4 linked regions of the Homo sapiens genome follow. The protein of the gene in region 2 purifies or fractionates together with the protein of the main gene of each other region. This does not show direct contact. Each region holds a gene or a part of one and is shown on either strand. Other genes may lie near its edges.

Region 1 (4,176 bases), on a different chromosome or scaffold from region 2:
ACTTTGAAACTGCTAGCAATAAACGGGAAAAAAATCATTAATCAACACTGCAGAAAAAGAAAAATGGTAAGCTGTGATGCTTTTACTTTTCAATTAGAAAAATATATTGATCACGACCACAAGTGGACATACCATCTGAATAAATAAAGCCTCCTGTAGTTAACTTGTCATTTAAAAAATGAATTAGATGAAAAGGATAATTTTCTGCAGTATGCTCAGCCATTTGAAGACTGGAGTCATTTAAGAAAAACATGAAACATCCTTAGAGAGGACCTAATTATTTCATATTGGTTGTGGCTCTTTAAAAATGGCAGAGCATTCCATGCCCTATACAGAGTACACAAGGAAATAATTTTCACATTGAATATAGATCTCTTACAGAATGAGGAAAAAAACACTTTACACAACACACTTTTCGATAACATGCAGTATTGAGGGAATAGTAAATCATCATCCTTCACAAAGAAGGTGCAGGTGCTCTAAAATAATCTTAGAGCTAATGATTTCAGAAAGAGGCTTCCAAATTTGAAATTTAAAATGCAAACTTAATTTCAAAGTTGGTTTTTCCAAATCTCTGATAAGTCCTAGGAATCCAGTGTGAGCAAGAAGAAAACTTTCTCCCTATTTTATGACTTGTACCTCCCACTATCTGTGATGAATGCCATGGGTCAAATGCCATAACAAATTTCCTCTTTTAGAGCCAGCAAAGTCTAGCCTGGTTGTAGCCAAGACTAAAGCAGGAAAAGGTCCTACCAAAGAGCTTGTCTAGAATTGATCCACCAAAAGATTTCCAAGGCCAACTGGGCACCCAACTGACCCCAGGGCAAGTTGATCATTTTATTGTGATTCAGGATCCCACCCTTGCACCATCTTTAGGCCCAAGAGCCCCCAGAAGAGCCCTGAACTGGTAACAGCGCCTGTATGGACAGGGTAGGCAGAGCACAGTTTATTGGAGCTGACCTCTATCTATTGATGCTTGTTGACAAGAACTTAGTCAGTGATTCTGGAGCAGCTCCTCCCAACAGATGGGCTGTGAAAACACCTCTCTCTCGAGCCAGAGCTCATATGAATAGTGGAAATCTTCAGGCAGATCCAACCTCTGCCCCAGTACGCTCTGCAAGCAGTTATCCACAGGTGAAAACTCAGAGTCCTGGGGTCTGTCATAGCGACGGCTGTTAAAAGCCTCAATGTTGGCCCTCAAGGTACATTCTTCTGCTTGGAAGTCCCATGGTCTGGCATCGATGTCTGTGTTGGAAAGAGAGGAAGAAGAAGACATACAATGCAAGACACTGCTCCTCTTATCACAGAGCATGGTCTATGGGATTCCAAAAATGGAACTGCTCAGAAATTCTTTTTTTTTTTTTTTTTGTAAAGAGCAATGTATGAAGTTAGTATACAGCATGCTGACACTTAGGTTTAAAAAATACACATATGCCCACATGCATAAGCTTGTATATGCAGAAATTATCTTTGGAAGGGTAGTCTAGAAACTGGTAATAGTGGTTACCTATGAGAAAGGAAATGAGGGCCCAGAGGGAGGTGGACTTCTTCTATTGTATTTCCTTTTTATTATTTCACTTTCTTATTAGCTTTATGTATTACTAGTTATATGTATTATGTTTCCCAAAAGGGTAATTAAATTCCTTTTATGCAGCTTTCCTTAGGGGATGAGTGTCCCATCTGAATGGAATAGCCAGCTTTCAAGGAATAGGAAGGGGCAAGAGGGGTATAACATGGAGAATCAGAATGGACCAATTACCGAAGATTTTCCTGATTCCCTGGAATCTCCTCCAGCACATGATAAATCTATATGTCAGCTTATTTTAAGATGATGAGGTGACGGCTTCAATGAAGGTAAAAACAGAAAACAGATAATCTGTTTCGCTTCTATTCACTTAGACACTTATTTCAGGGCTGAAGATACAAATCTCCCAGATCTCTCATGTTCTACATGCAAGGGTTTATCATAAGGAAGTGTAGTGTGAGTTTGGGCTCATAATGGCAGCAACAACAGATGTGCCATTTGCAGGATAAAACATTTTTGTGTTTTAAAAATTTACAAGAATTTAATAGATAATTGTGCTTTATGTCTTATAGCAGAAGTTGCATCCTGGCTTGTTATGTGCCTATCATATGTTTCCTTTAGTTCTCTAAACCCTTTTTTAGTGAAAAGACAGTCCCTCAGCACCACAAATTATGCAGTTGAGTTTCCCACATTTAGGGGAATAGCAGGGGTCAGCATATCTGGAGTAAAATGGATAAGACTTGTCCTGGGAAAACCATCTTCATGATCATGGTATTTTCCCTGCCAGGTAAGTAAGTAGAGTTATCTGAACTCTTTACTGCATCATCCTTTAAAATTCAAGCAGGTTACAAACACAGCAAAGACAAGTCATTACCAAAAATTCTCAAATACAATTATGGAAATAATGGTCAAATACAAAACAATAAAAAAGCTCTCCAAAATAAATTTTTCCAAACTCTGATCAATCTTACAAGTTCTGGTAGTTTAACCAAATATCTTGCCTTCTGATGTGAGGCAATGTACAGTTCCCAAGATTACCTAGGACATACTGCAGCCAAAAAGGTTTAAATTGAATTCATCAAACCTTTAGATTTAACTTCAAGTTTACAGGTAATACCATAGATAGACGAATAAAGTAGATAACACCACAAAGAAGAAAACAGACAAATCCAGAATGTGAGTATTTTGCAGGACAACTGGCCTAGTTCTTCAATTAGTTAGCATTAATGGTGGAGGTGGGGAGACTGCTTAGAGGCCAAGCACGGTGGCTTACACCTGTAATCCCAGCACTTTGGGAGGCCAGGGCAGGAGGATCCCTTGAGCCCAGGAGTTCAAGACCAGCCTGGGCAACACAGGGAGAGACTCCATCTCTACAAAAAAATTTGAAAAATTAGCCGGGTGTAGTGGTGGTATGCATCTGTAGTCCCAGCTACTTGGCAGCTGGGAGGATCACTTGAGCCCAGGAAGTCGAGGCTGCAGTGAGCCATTATCATGTCACTGCTTTCCAGCCTGGGTGACAGAGCGACCCTCTCAAAAAAACAAACAAACAAAAAACAGAAAACAAAAATAATTAACATATATATAACAACTGGATGCAACCTGTGGTCCTGGATTGGATTCTGACTTGGAAAAATAGCTATGAAGAACATTTTGGGACAACTCGAAAATTGTGAATATGAACTTTATTAGATGAAATGAAAATGTACTGACATGAAAAGGTAGAGATAATGTTAAAAGAGAAAATTACAAAATAGCATACATAACTTGCTTTCATTTTGATAAAATATGCATGTATATGCATAGAAAAAGATCTGGAGGAATATACAATAAGATGTTAATGGTGGCAATTTCTGCATAGTACAAATATGGCATAAATATAATATAGTAAAATGTTTGTTTACTTGTATTTTCTATCTTTTTTTCTAACTGCTTTGTAATAATAAAAAGTTGTTTTAATTTAAATCTTTTGGAGAAAGCTGTCATTTAAAAGAATGTTTTGGAAAGGCAATTAATTATCTCTCAATTTACTTGTTTTATAAAACGGATTTTCATAGTTTACATAGGACAAGGGTACATACTAGAATTTGAGGCATAACCTTAAAGTTTGGTGTATCAGCGCCTGACCTATAATCACATATTTTTTCATCTAAAATATGTAACAATTCATGCCAAAAGAGGAGTGATAAATATTTATTTAGTTTTGTCTAAACCCCAGGAAACTCCAGGAAGTCAAGAGCTTTGGGAAGACTCACCATTCCCGTAAGCCCAGTCATCGTTCATGCGGTGACGCACTTTCTGGTAAATGGCTGACATGGTTTTCATGTTGCTTTTCCTCCATTGGCGCCCCAGGTACTTGGTCTGTAACTTTAGTAGCTTTAGGACATAAAGTTGCAGCATGGCCTGTTTGACCTTGAGGGCCCGCTTTAAGATTGGTGCCGATTTAAACACTACCAGCATCTGTTCATTGAAAGAGGGGTGGGGTAAAGATCTAACGTTTCTTGGAATTTCCAGTTTACAGACAAATTAAACCAAACCTAGCTAGCCTCAGAAATTCCTGGGGAGCTTTCAGGAATCTATGGTCCAGGCTCTACTTAGATTTAATCTTCAAGAATATAGAGGGGGGCTGGGCAAGGTGGCTCATGTCTGTAATC
Region 2 (3,500 bases):
AAGTGATTAAGAGCTTACACGCACAGGCTGGGGAGTCCAATTGCCTGGACTCATCCCAGACTTGCCACCTGCTTGCTGGGGGCTGGGGGGAGATGAACAATTCCCTCAGCCTCCTTATCTGTAAAATATATAGTATATGTGTATCTGCCTTATGAAACTGTTAGTGCCTAACATACAGAAAGCATTCATTAAATATTAGCTACTTTATTGTTTATTATGATTGTGTGATAGAAAAAAGTAATAGACTGGGGCTCAGGGGACTTAAGTTCTGGTCCTTGCTTTACTTCTTTTTCCACCTATGTGACTCTTGTACAGAACTGAGGTGCGGTCATAGAAAGGGACCCAGAAAGTAATCAAAAATCCTTAAGTCAAGATCTTAAAAGTAAGCCAGGCAACGATCCTGAGTGTCAGTTCTCTTGAGACAGGAACACAGCCACTGCAAGGTGTAGAAAGTACCCACTACCAAGGGTTGAATAATCACAGTTCCATACTCAATTCTACCTGCGGAAGGTTTTGTAACTTGAGCTGAGTGACTTCTCATTCTAGTACTATCTTCTTTAAAATGATGAGGTGGCACTCATCATTTGAAAGTACTGTCTTTTAAAGTACTTTTAAAGTACTGTCTTTTAAAGTACTTTTAAAGTACTGTCTTTTAAAGTACTTTTAAAGTACTGTCTTTAAAATGATTGCGATAACAGGTTCTCAATATTGGATGCGAATTAAAATCACACAAAAGCTTAGAAAATAGACCAATACTTGGGCACCCTCTCAGGCCAATTTAAATCAGAACCTCTGGGGGCATAGCCCAGGCATCTGCATTTTTAAAGCACCCCAGGTGACTTTGATGCACAGAGAGTGTTGAGAGCCACAGTACTAGATAATCAGATGGTTTCAAGTGAGGTCAGAGTCTAGAGGTTTCCACTCCTTTTGGTTTCCTGTAAGGTATAGCTGTCCCCAGGACCAAAGCCATGTAATCATTGACATTGTGGTACTCAAGGCCCTGTGCCTGCTCACAATCAGACTAGGGGCAGATGTGCAAAGAGAACTAGGAAATCTTACAGAAGTCTTAGATAATTCTTGAATGAATATGATAAGCTGTTAATATCTTAAAAATTAGCTAAAGACTAATGTGGAAATTATCGCTGTTGTGTACCAAAAGAAATTTAGAATAATTGAATGAGGAAAAAAATACTTCTAGAGGCCAACCAGTCAAACTCTTTGTCTCCAAAGAAGAGAACACAAATACTCTTTTTCTGGGTGGGTGAAAAAAAAATTACAGTTCTTTTTCTCCTTTGACACTATTACACCTTTTTACATAAAGACAGGAGAAGAAAAAAGGAAAACTGAGTTTATTGTAAAGAAATCAAGAGATGTTATGTCAAGAAAACAGACAGCCTTCGTGAAATGTAACACATCTCTGCCTTTACTTCTTTTTCATTGACTTGGATTAAACAGGTCTGTATCACACAGCAAACAGTATATTTGCTTCAGGAAGATGTTTAGCCTGTCAGGTGAGTAGCAGTACAAGTCCTGTGCTATTAACCAATAATGAATGTAGTGTGTTTGGGGATGGGGAGTTGGGGTGTGCTAGTATAGTTGTGACAAGTTACTGTTTCAATTTATTAGAATAGAATTTCTCAGAAAGTAGAGATTTATTCTGTTATATTCCATCCCATATAAAACATTCACCTTCCTGGGATATTCAATCCCACTACCTGGGATATGTGATACCCTGGAAAAGTAGTCTTTCTGGCCACTGGCATAAGAGAAAGCAAAGCATTATCTGCTCCATCGAAGTTTTATTAGAATCGCTCTCCTTTTACTTCAAACAATCTGAAAGTTAAATGCCAGAAATGCAAATAGAAACTCAAAAGTTTCAATTATTTCCAAATAGTCAGACATTTGGACATCATGCAGGCAAATAAAGATAAAAGAATTAAATAAAATATCCAATAAAATATGCCTCTGATCCATAGTAGCAAAATGGCTGAAAAGCGTCAGGCAATTTTTCTTAAACTACAGCAAGCTCTCTGTTTTATTTTATTTTTTTGAAGGAACATCATGCTGCCAGAATAGCAACTCACTACCAAAACAAAGTCATTTGGAACCAATAACAAGCCTTTATGTGGAGCACCTTCTACCGCCTTCCTCACTGCCTTCTGACCAAAACACACACACACACACACACACACACACATACACACACACACACACACACACTCCACCAAAGGTTTCTTGAAGAAGTATTGCTACCAACAACGGGGATAAGTATTTCATAGAACTCCCTCTTGAACCCACTTCACAAACTAAATGTTTATGACCAAGGTAGAGACTGGCAGCACATTCAAAGTTTACAATATAAGGTGGGGCTCTGAGTTGTCAATAGGAGCAACAGCAGACAAAAGCCCCAACAGTGTCAAAGGAGGTGGTACAAAATCAAATGCTCCATGGCATCCTCTTCTTGGGAATCAACCCAGCGTGTAGAAACCAAGAACCACATTGCCCCATCAACAACTGGAAGAATCACTTCTGCATCTCAGTGCCCCAGGCCTAGCTCATCCAGGGTGGCCCAACTCTACTGGCCATTGAAGCTTCTGATTCCACTTTGGGATCCTGGAAAAGAGCCTCTGTTAGCCTTCTGACCCTAAATCTCTTTATTCTTTGCACTTTGTGAATCTTTTAATACTATAGGGGCAGCTGTTACCTTGCAGTGTCACATTCTACATGTTTCAGTAAAACATCTCATAGTCATCTAGGTGGAGGTGTTCCATAAACAACTGCCTGAATTTTAAAAAGTGGTTGAAACTATCGAATAGATAAGGTCAAATTGCCTGGATTTGGATTTTAAATCTACTACTAGGTAAGTTATTTAACATTTATAACCTCATTTTCCTAATCTGTAAAATAGTGATAAAAATAGTACCTCATAGGGTTGTTACGAGAAGCAAATAAAATCATCCATGTAAAATGCTTGGCACAATTCCTGGCACATAGTAATATTCTCAAGTATATGCTAGTTATTCCTATCATTTTATATAGTAAATGTACTGCATATGTTGTATATTATATAGATAATATATATTACATGTAGCCATTATTATTATTATTACTTATGGAATGAGCAGAATGTAGAAGTTGGGGATGTCTTATCAAAAGTTGACGGGCCCTGAGAAGTGAACTCGACCAATGCAGCTGACTTCCTTAAAGACCAGAACGAACAACAGGCTATGGCCAAACCAGTTGGTTTGGTGTATTCAAACCAGAAGATGATATCTATCAACACAGCGAGTGAAAGTTAAGCTTATATGTAAGGCCACTCCCTGATCCAAATACCAGGCTGCTCTTCAAGCATGTGTCCCTTACTAAACAGTTAATGAAACACAAAGAGCTTTGAATACCTCCAGTGTCACATTTCAAGACTTATAGAATAATTAGGAAAAATCTGAGCTGGCAAAACTCTTCCTGGCTTGCCCTGATGAGCAGACCATCTTTGTTTTCCA
Region 3 (4,176 bases), on a different chromosome or scaffold from region 2:
GTCTCACTCTGTCGCCCAGCCTGGAGTGCAGTGGCACGATCTTGGCTCACTGCAAGTTCCACGTCCCGGGTTCACGCTGTTCTTCTGCCTCGGCCTCCCGAGTAGCTGGGACTACAGGCGCTAACCACCACGTCTGACTAATTTTTTTTTGTATTTTTAGTAGAGATGGGGTTTCACTGTGTTAGCCAGGATGGTCTGGATCTCCTGATCTCGTGATCCGCCCGTCTCGGCCTCTGAAAGTGCTGGGATTACAGGCATGAGCCACTGCGCCCAGCCAATTTTTTTTGTATTTTTAGTAGAGATGGGGTTTCAGCGTGTTAGCCAGGTTGGTCTCGAACTCCTGACCTCAAGTGATCTTCCCGCCTCAGCCTCCCAAAGTGCTGGGATTACAGGCGCAAGCCACCACGCTGGGCTTCATAGTTGGTTTTCAATAAATGTTTGTTGGTTGAATTAGATGAGAATCTTTATTAAGCTGAATTTTTGGTGTCTCTCATAGGCATCTAAAATATGTCACAGTTATGAGAAGGCGAAACATTTCATTCTCAACATCTTTTCTATATATAGTCATCATTGGTGTCCTCTGGGGATTGGCTCCAGGATAACTCCGTACCCCCACCCCATACCAAAATCTGAGGATGCTTAAGTTTCTTAAGTAAAATGGCATAGTGTTTGCATATAACCTATGCACATTCTGTTATATAGTTTAAATCAACTCTAGATTACTTAATAATACCTAATGCAATGCGTGTTCTGTAAATAGTTGTTATACTGTATTTAGGGAATAATGACCAAAAAGAAAGCCGGTACATGTTTAGTACATACGCAACTATCTTAGACCTAACTAGGTACATAGTACATGTCAGCAACAATATAACATTTTCTGTATTTTTTTTCTCCCCTGAAATGAATATTTTCAATTCCTGGTTGATTGAATCTGCAGATTAAACCTGCAGATATGGAGGGCCAACTGTACATGTGTTTTCTAATATTTTAAAAACAACATTCTGTAAACTTCCTTAGTTTTTTTAAAAAGGAAAGAATAGACAGAGTATTGGTAGAAACTTTAGATCATATAGGAAAAATTTTAGAATTGCTCTTTAATAGATAATGTCTAAGAAAAGGAATCCTGGAACCATTTCTAGAAGATTGTTTTATTTCTTGATATTTTCCTTTAATAAAATTAGTTCATTTTCATCCAGATAGGCCAGCTATTTCAAAAAAGATGAAATGTTTAAGACACTTAAAAAGGTGTACTCATTACCTACTGTCCAAACGGGGACATTGCTACTATAGTTGAATCCTTATGGAAGACATTCTCTGTCTTCTACCCTATCATTCCTTTTCTTTTCTGTATACTTTTACTATATATGCATTATATCCATAAGTATGCCTTGCACTTAAACTTTTTTTTTTTTTTTTGAGACAGAATCTCGCTCTGTCTCCCAGGCTGGAGTGCAGTGCTGCACTCTCGGCTCACTGCAAACTCCGCTTCCTGGGTTTGCGCCCACCACCACGCCTGGCTAATTTTTTGTATTTTTTCATAGAGATGGGGTTTCACCGTGTTAGCCAGGATGGTCTCGATCTGCTGACCTCATGATCCGCCTGCCTCGGCCTCCCAAAGTGCTGAGCGTGAGCCACCGCGCCCGGCCTAAACTTTATTCATTTTATATACACTGTGTTTACTTCTAATTTGCTTTTTTTGCTCAAGGTTTTGAAGACTTAATCTTTGTTGATTGTTTTTACAGGTTTATATACAGGTTTATAGATTATTGGTTTACTCTTACCTCCTCCCCACCAAGTTTTACCTCAGAGACATTTGAGCTTCAAAGATGTGTCAGGCATTGTGCTACCCACTGAGGTTACATAGGTAAACTTTTCTGAAAAATCAGTCAAATGGAAAGGTTCTTAATCACTTAGGGGAATATCTGTTAACTGTATTATCTACAGAGAATTCCAGAACCAGGGCAAGATGCTCTATAAAAATATCCCCCTTAAGCTGGGCATGGTGGCTCATGCTTGTAATGCCAGCACTTTGGGAGGCTGAGGCTGGAGGATTGTTTGTGACCAGGAGTTTGAGACCAACCTGGCCAACAAAGTGAGACCTCGTCTCTTAAAAAAAAAAAAAAAAAAAAAAAAGAAGAAGAAATAAAAATATTCCCTTTAACAGAAAGCTGGTTTATTTGATGTTTCCTTCTCTTTTTAAAATTTTTGTGGGTATATAGTAGGTGTATATATTTGTAGGTTACATGAGATATTTTGATACAAGCATGCAGTGTATAATAATCACATCAGGGGGGTAAATGGGGTATCCATCACCATAAACATTTGTATCGGGGAACCTGCCCCGATAGTCACGTAGGTTCTTTTCTATTTTCCCTAAGCATCAGCCAGTTTGAGAAATGAAGGGACAGAGTACAAAAGAGAGAAATTTTAAAGTTGGGCGTCCGGGGGAGACATCACATGTCGGTGGGTACCGTGATGCCCCACAAGCTGCAAAACCGGCAAGTTTTTATTAGGGACTTTCAAAAGGGGAGGGAGTGTACAAATAGGGTGTGGGTCACAAAGATCACGTACTTCACAAGGTAATAGAATATCACAAGGGAAATGGAGGCAGGGCGAGATCACAGGACCACAGGACCAGAGCAAAATTAAAATTGCTAATGAAGTTTCGGGCACCATTGTCATTGATAACATCTTATCAGGAGACAGGGTTTTGAGAGCAACCGGTCTGACCAAAATTTATTAGGTGGGAATTTCCTCTTCCTAATAAGCCTGGGAGCACTATGGGAGACTGGGGTTTATTTCACCCCTACAGTTTCGACCATAGAAGACGGCCATACCCAAGGGGGCCGTCTATAGACCCACCCCCAGGCGTGTATTCTCTTTCCCAGGGATGTTCCTTGCTGAGAAAAAGAATTCAGCGATATTTCTCCCATTTGCTTTTGAAAGAAGAGAAATATGGCTCTGTTCCGCCCGGCTCACCAGTGGTCAGAGTTTAAGGTTATCTCTCTTATTCCCTGAACAATTGCTGTTATCCTGTTCTTTTTCCAAGGTGCCCAGATTTCATATTGTTCAAACACACATGCTCTACAGTTTGTGCAGTTAACACAATTATCACAGGGTCCTGAGGTGACATACCTCCTCCTCAGCTGACAGGATTAAGAGATTAAAGACAGGCCTAGGAAATCACAAGGTATTGATTGGGGAAGTGATAAGTGTCCATGAAATCTTCACAATTTGTGTTTAGAGACTGCAGTAAAGACAGGCATAGGAAATTATAAAAGTATTAATTTGGAGAACTAATAAATGTCCATGAAATCTTCACAATCCACATTCTTCTGCCGTGGTTTCAGCCGGTCCCTCAGTTTGGGGTCCCTGACTTCCTGCAACACATTTGTCCTTTATGTTGCAAAAAATTAGATTCTTTTAGTTTTTTTTAAATGTACAATTAAATTGGTTTTTACTATAGTCACCCTATTGTGCTAGCAAATACTAGGTCTTATTCATTCTTTCTATTTTTTTTGTACCCATGGGTGATTACCTTTTTTTTTTTTTTTTTTTTTTTTTGAGATGGAGTCTTGCTCTGTCACCCAGGCTGGAGTGCAGTGGCGTGATCTTGAGTCACCACAGCTTCCGCCTCCTGGGTTCAAGCAATTCTCCTGCCTCAGCCTCCTGAGTAGCTGGGATTACAGGCGCACGCCACCATGCCCGGCTATTTTTTGTATTTTTAGTAGAGACGGGGTTTCATCATGTTGGCCAGGCTGGTCTCGAACTCCTGACCTCAAGTGATCCTTCCGCCTCGGCCTCCCAAAGTGGTAGGGTTACTGGTGTAAGCCACCATGCCCAGTCTGATGATTACTTTTTAATGGTGCCCATATTTTGATTTAGAAATTCAAAACTCTATTTGGAATGAGAATAATAATTTATAATTTCTTTTTAAAATAATACTTATGGGTCGATCATGGTGGCTCACGCCTGTAATCCCAGCACTTTGGGAGTCTGAAGTAGGCGGATCACGAGATCAAGAGATTGAGACCATCCTGGCCAACATGGTGAAACCCTGTCTCTACAAAAAATACAAAAATTAGCTGGGTGTGGTGGTGCGTGCCTGTAGTCCCAGCTACTCGGGAGGCTGAGGCAGGAGAATCACTTGAACCCAGGAGGTGGAGGTTGCAG
Region 4 (4,176 bases), on a different chromosome or scaffold from region 2:
TGCAACCTAAACTGTGATTGTCTAGATTATGGCTAACGACAGAAAGCAATGGTTAAGAAAGCCAAAAACCAAAAAAGAGTCTGTAATATCTTCTTCATAACCTGAAAAAGCACTTATTTCCTGACTTCCTGCATCCAATAAGAAGCTTCAGGTTTGGAATTCTGAGTGCCACAACATGATCTGTATTGAGCTGTACCAAATCATACTATTAATATAAAATTAAGTTGATTTAAAATATGAAATTACGAGAAATGAAAAATAGAATTTCCTATTCAGAATAAATATGGCTTTCTTCAAATAGAATTGAAAATTAATCATTTAGTATAAAATAAAACTTGACCCATAACAGCTCAAATGCTATTTCAAACAGTATAGTTATAAATGTACATAAACTTAACCCAAATTCTTAAAAGGTAAATAATTACAACCTTCTAAGTAACTGTGTTCTGAAAGTTAAGAGACAGAAAGCTTTATAATGACAAATATTTTTCACAGCTGACTCTAGTAGTCGTAATTTTGATTAAGTTAAAAAAATAAACACAGACAATTTAAAATTGGTATGCATACTTGTATCTACATTGGATTCTAAAGTGAGAATGCGTTGTTGTGTTTCCATGTTAAAAATGCTTGTATATCCCTTGCTGAATGATGCTACCATATGGCTCGGGTCACTGCTCACTAGATCCACAGAGGCAGGGATTCCCAGTTCTGAAAGAGAACATATTGAAATAGAATGGCAATTAAACCATCTACTTGACAATCTGCTTAAAATAGAGCAAAACAAAAAATGGCATGGTTTCCTTAAGAAGTAAACAAGGCTTACCATTAGAATAAGAATTAGCTCATAACTATTCATTGGAGATTATTTCTTTGTAACTTTTAGCCCTAGTCTATTTATTTCCCTTACCTGCTTAGCAGATCTTCTACCTGTTACTCAACTGATATATTCATGGAATGCAAGCCTTTATTTAGAGAGCAAATGGAAAACATGTATGAATTACAAATTTTGCTGCTTCCGCCCAACCTCAAGCTTAGAGTGACATAGTGGGAATTCTTCATTTTAAAAAACCCATCTCTTATTAGGGATGTTAGCTCATCAAAAATAGAGAAATTAAAAAGTAAAATTTAAAATTATTATTTATCGTTAGAGTCATGCAAATACCATATGAAGACAACTCATCAAAGCCTGGAAAGAAGTTATAATAGCTCAAGAATACAGAAGGTATTTTTATTTACCATCTAGAATACATGAAAACTTAGAGCTTATTTATAAACATAAAAATAGAAGGAAACATATAAAGTGAATATAATAATCTGATTTTTTTCATTTGGCTCAAAATCTAACTACAGCAAGGTAACAGTTCAAAAATGTGCATACTGCAGAAGAAGATACACAAATAACCAATAAGCAAACAAAAGAAATGCTCATCAAAATTAGCCATCAAAGAAATGCAAATAAACTATGATGAAATACTACTACACATCCACCAGAATGGCTAAAGTTAAACAGACTGACAATACTGTATGTTTGTAAGGATGCAGAGCAACTGGAATGCTCATACACTGCTGTCAAAGGTGTAAAATGGTACAACTACAAAATTTTTTTGAAAAATTTTTAGTGACTTCACATAAAGTAAAATAAACATCCACCTGAAAGCCCAGCAATTCTAAGTCTCTACACACCTATAATGAAAATATATGAATGTTCATAGCAGCCTTGTTCAAAATAGCAAAAAACTAGAGACAACCCAAATATCCATCAAGATATAAATGAATAGACAAATTATGGCTTAATGAAATACTATCAAATAAAAATGAAAGAAATAATTGATATAACACAAATGAATTTCCAAAACATTATAATGAAGAATAAAAGCAAGATACAAAGAACACATACTTTACTATTCCATTTACATGACGTTTGAGTAGATAAAACTAATCTATGATGAAAGAAATCACAACAGTGGGTACCTCTGGCTGGGAATAAGGAAAGGAGGGGACTGACTTGGAAAGACACGAAGGAACTTTGGGGAGATAAAGGAAATGTTCTATCTCTCATACGGTTTGGATCTGTGTCCTCACTCAAGTCTCATGTCAAACATAATCCCCAATATTGGAGATACGGCCTGGCGGGAGGTGATTGGATCATGGGGTGGATTTTCCCCTTTGGTGCTATTCTCGTGATAGAGTTCTCACAAGATTTGGTTGTTTAAAAATAGGTCCCACCCCCTTCTTCCTCCTGCTCCGGCCATGTAAAACATGCCTCCTGTCCCTTTGACTTCCACCATGATTGTAAATTGCTTGAGGCCTCCCCAGAAGCCAAAGAAAAGTTGCTATGCTTCCTGTACAGAACCGTCAACCAATTAAACCTTTTTTTTTTTTAAACAAATTACCCAGTCTCAGGTATTTCTTTATAGTGGTACGAGAATGGGCAAATATAGTCTTTTTTTTTTTTAAAGAAAATGTAGAGACAGGGCCTCGCTATGTTGCCCAGCTGGTCCCAAATTCCTGGCCTCTCGTGATCCTCCTGCCTCAGCCTCCCAAAGTGCTAGGATTACAGGTGTGAGCCACCACACCTGGATTCTATGTCTTGATTGATGTATGAGTTACATGGGTGTACTCATCTATCAGACTCACTGAAATGTATCCTTAATATCTGTTTTTCACTACATACAAATTATATCTTAATTTTTTAAAATCTAAAATCTGTGTGTTCTTTCACCAAAAACTATGCTTTCAAAAATTATAGGCTGGGTGCAGTGGCTCATGCCTGTAATCCCAGCACTTCGGGAGGCTGAGGCAGGCGAATCACTTGAGGTCAGGAGTTCCAGACCAGCCTGGCCAACACAGCAAAACCCTGTCTCTACTAAAAAAACTACAAAAATTAGCTGAGCGTGGTGGTGTGTGCTGGAGGCTGAGGCAGGAGAATTGCTTGAAACTGGGAGATGGAGGTTGCAGTGAGCCGAGATTGCGCCACTGCACTCCAGCCTGGGCAACAGAGTGATACTCCGTCTCAAAAAAAACAAAACAAAACAAAACAAAACAAAACAAAATTATATATAGGTTGGAAATTCAAACAAATACACTTTCGTGGCTTCAAAAACTTTCAAATTAAATTTAAAGAGTTCAGGGAATCATTTATCTGCTTGCTTATTTTCAGAATAAACTGTTTTATAGAGGATTCAGCAAAATAATTTTTTAAAGTATGTACCTTTAGTATCATTAAATACACTTAGTGCTGGAGCAACCTCAGTTGTATTCCATAAACGCAGAGTGCCATCTGCTGAACAGGACAACAAACGCTGATGTGCTGCACTATAAGCCAAACCCCAGACTGCATCCGTGTGGCCTAGCAGAGGGCCTCGTAAAACAGAAGGATCTATACAAAACAGTAAAAATGCAAAATCAGGAGAAAAACAACCACAAAGGTACTTAGATTTCAGAGAAAGTAAAATATATAAACAATAGCACCTGATAACAGTATAAAATATGATTCTTGGTTTCTATTATTCTTCTGACAGGCTACAGTAAATCAAAACAAGCTTGGAAATATACAAATATAAAGTTAAAAAATTTTAAATTAAAATTTAAAAGCACGTATTTTTCCCCCTTAAAAAAACTGAGTATTTCCTCCCCCTTCCTTTTGTCCTTCCATTTGTCTAAATATTTTTAAAGCACGTTGATACGAAATCATTTGAATTTAATTCATCTTTGGAGAAACCACAACTCACACTCCCTGAGGAAGTGAACAGAGAGGTCCTCTCCCTCTCTGAAGTCCCTTAGCACTTTGGCTATACTTCCTTCTGTTCACTTATCTTACTATATGATGGATGGCAGTTTTTCCTGAAAATATGGCATTCATAATGGACAGGAAGTGACATCTACAGGAATCCCCAAATTCTCAAACAGCAGTAACTGAGATGCAGTGATAGTGTATGCAGGGGAAGAGGGAGGGAAGTGGGGAGGTTAAGCACAGTCTCATGATAAAAGTCAAATTGGAAACCTTATTAATCTTCACAATGATTCTATGAAGTGGTACTTTCAAGATGACTCACAAATGTTAAGTCTGGAAATGTCAATGGTGTTATGTCTTATATCCTCTGTCACACATACCATAAAATATTGAAGACACACTGTGTGTCAGGCACTATGCTCAATGATGGAGCCAAATACATG

The links. The genes of interacting proteins can lie anywhere in the genome.
Region 1: the proteins of FILIP1 (region 2) and STRIP2 purify together in Homo sapiens (affinity purification with mass spectrometry; one large-scale study listed by BioGRID and IntAct). This does not show direct contact.
Region 3: the proteins of FILIP1 (region 2) and MOB4 purify together in Homo sapiens (affinity purification with mass spectrometry; one large-scale study listed by BioGRID and IntAct). This does not show direct contact.
Region 4: the proteins of FILIP1 (region 2) and STRN purify together in Homo sapiens (affinity purification with mass spectrometry; one large-scale study listed by BioGRID and IntAct). This does not show direct contact.

Annotation. Positions count from the first base shown.
Region 1 is NC_000007.14:129,482,648-129,486,823, reverse strand, and holds part of STRIP2 (striatin-interacting protein 2), read right to left. Parts: intron 3,983-4,176; coding exon 3,778-3,982; coding exon of another isoform or gene 3,755-3,777; exon of another isoform or gene 3,193-3,754; intron 1,246-3,192; coding exon 995-1,245; 3' UTR 1-994. UniProt on the Homo sapiens protein: Plays a role in the regulation of cell morphology and cytoskeletal organization. Required in the control of cell shape. Calmodulin-binding scaffolding protein which is the center of the striatin-interacting phosphatase and kinase (STRIPAK) complexes.
Region 2 is NC_000006.12:75,483,801-75,487,300, forward strand, and holds part of FILIP1 (filamin-A-interacting protein 1), read right to left. Parts: intron 1-3,500. UniProt on the Homo sapiens protein: By acting through a filamin-A/F-actin axis, it controls the start of neocortical cell migration from the ventricular zone. May be able to induce the degradation of filamin-A.
Region 3 is NC_000002.12:197,518,782-197,522,957, forward strand, and holds part of MOB4 (MOB-like protein phocein), read left to right. Parts: intron 1-4,176.
Region 4 is NC_000002.12:36,854,645-36,858,820, forward strand, and holds part of STRN (striatin), read right to left. Parts: intron 3,380-4,176; coding exon 3,212-3,379; intron 709-3,211; coding exon 568-708; intron 1-567. UniProt on the Homo sapiens protein: Calmodulin-binding scaffolding protein which is the center of the striatin-interacting phosphatase and kinase (STRIPAK) complexes.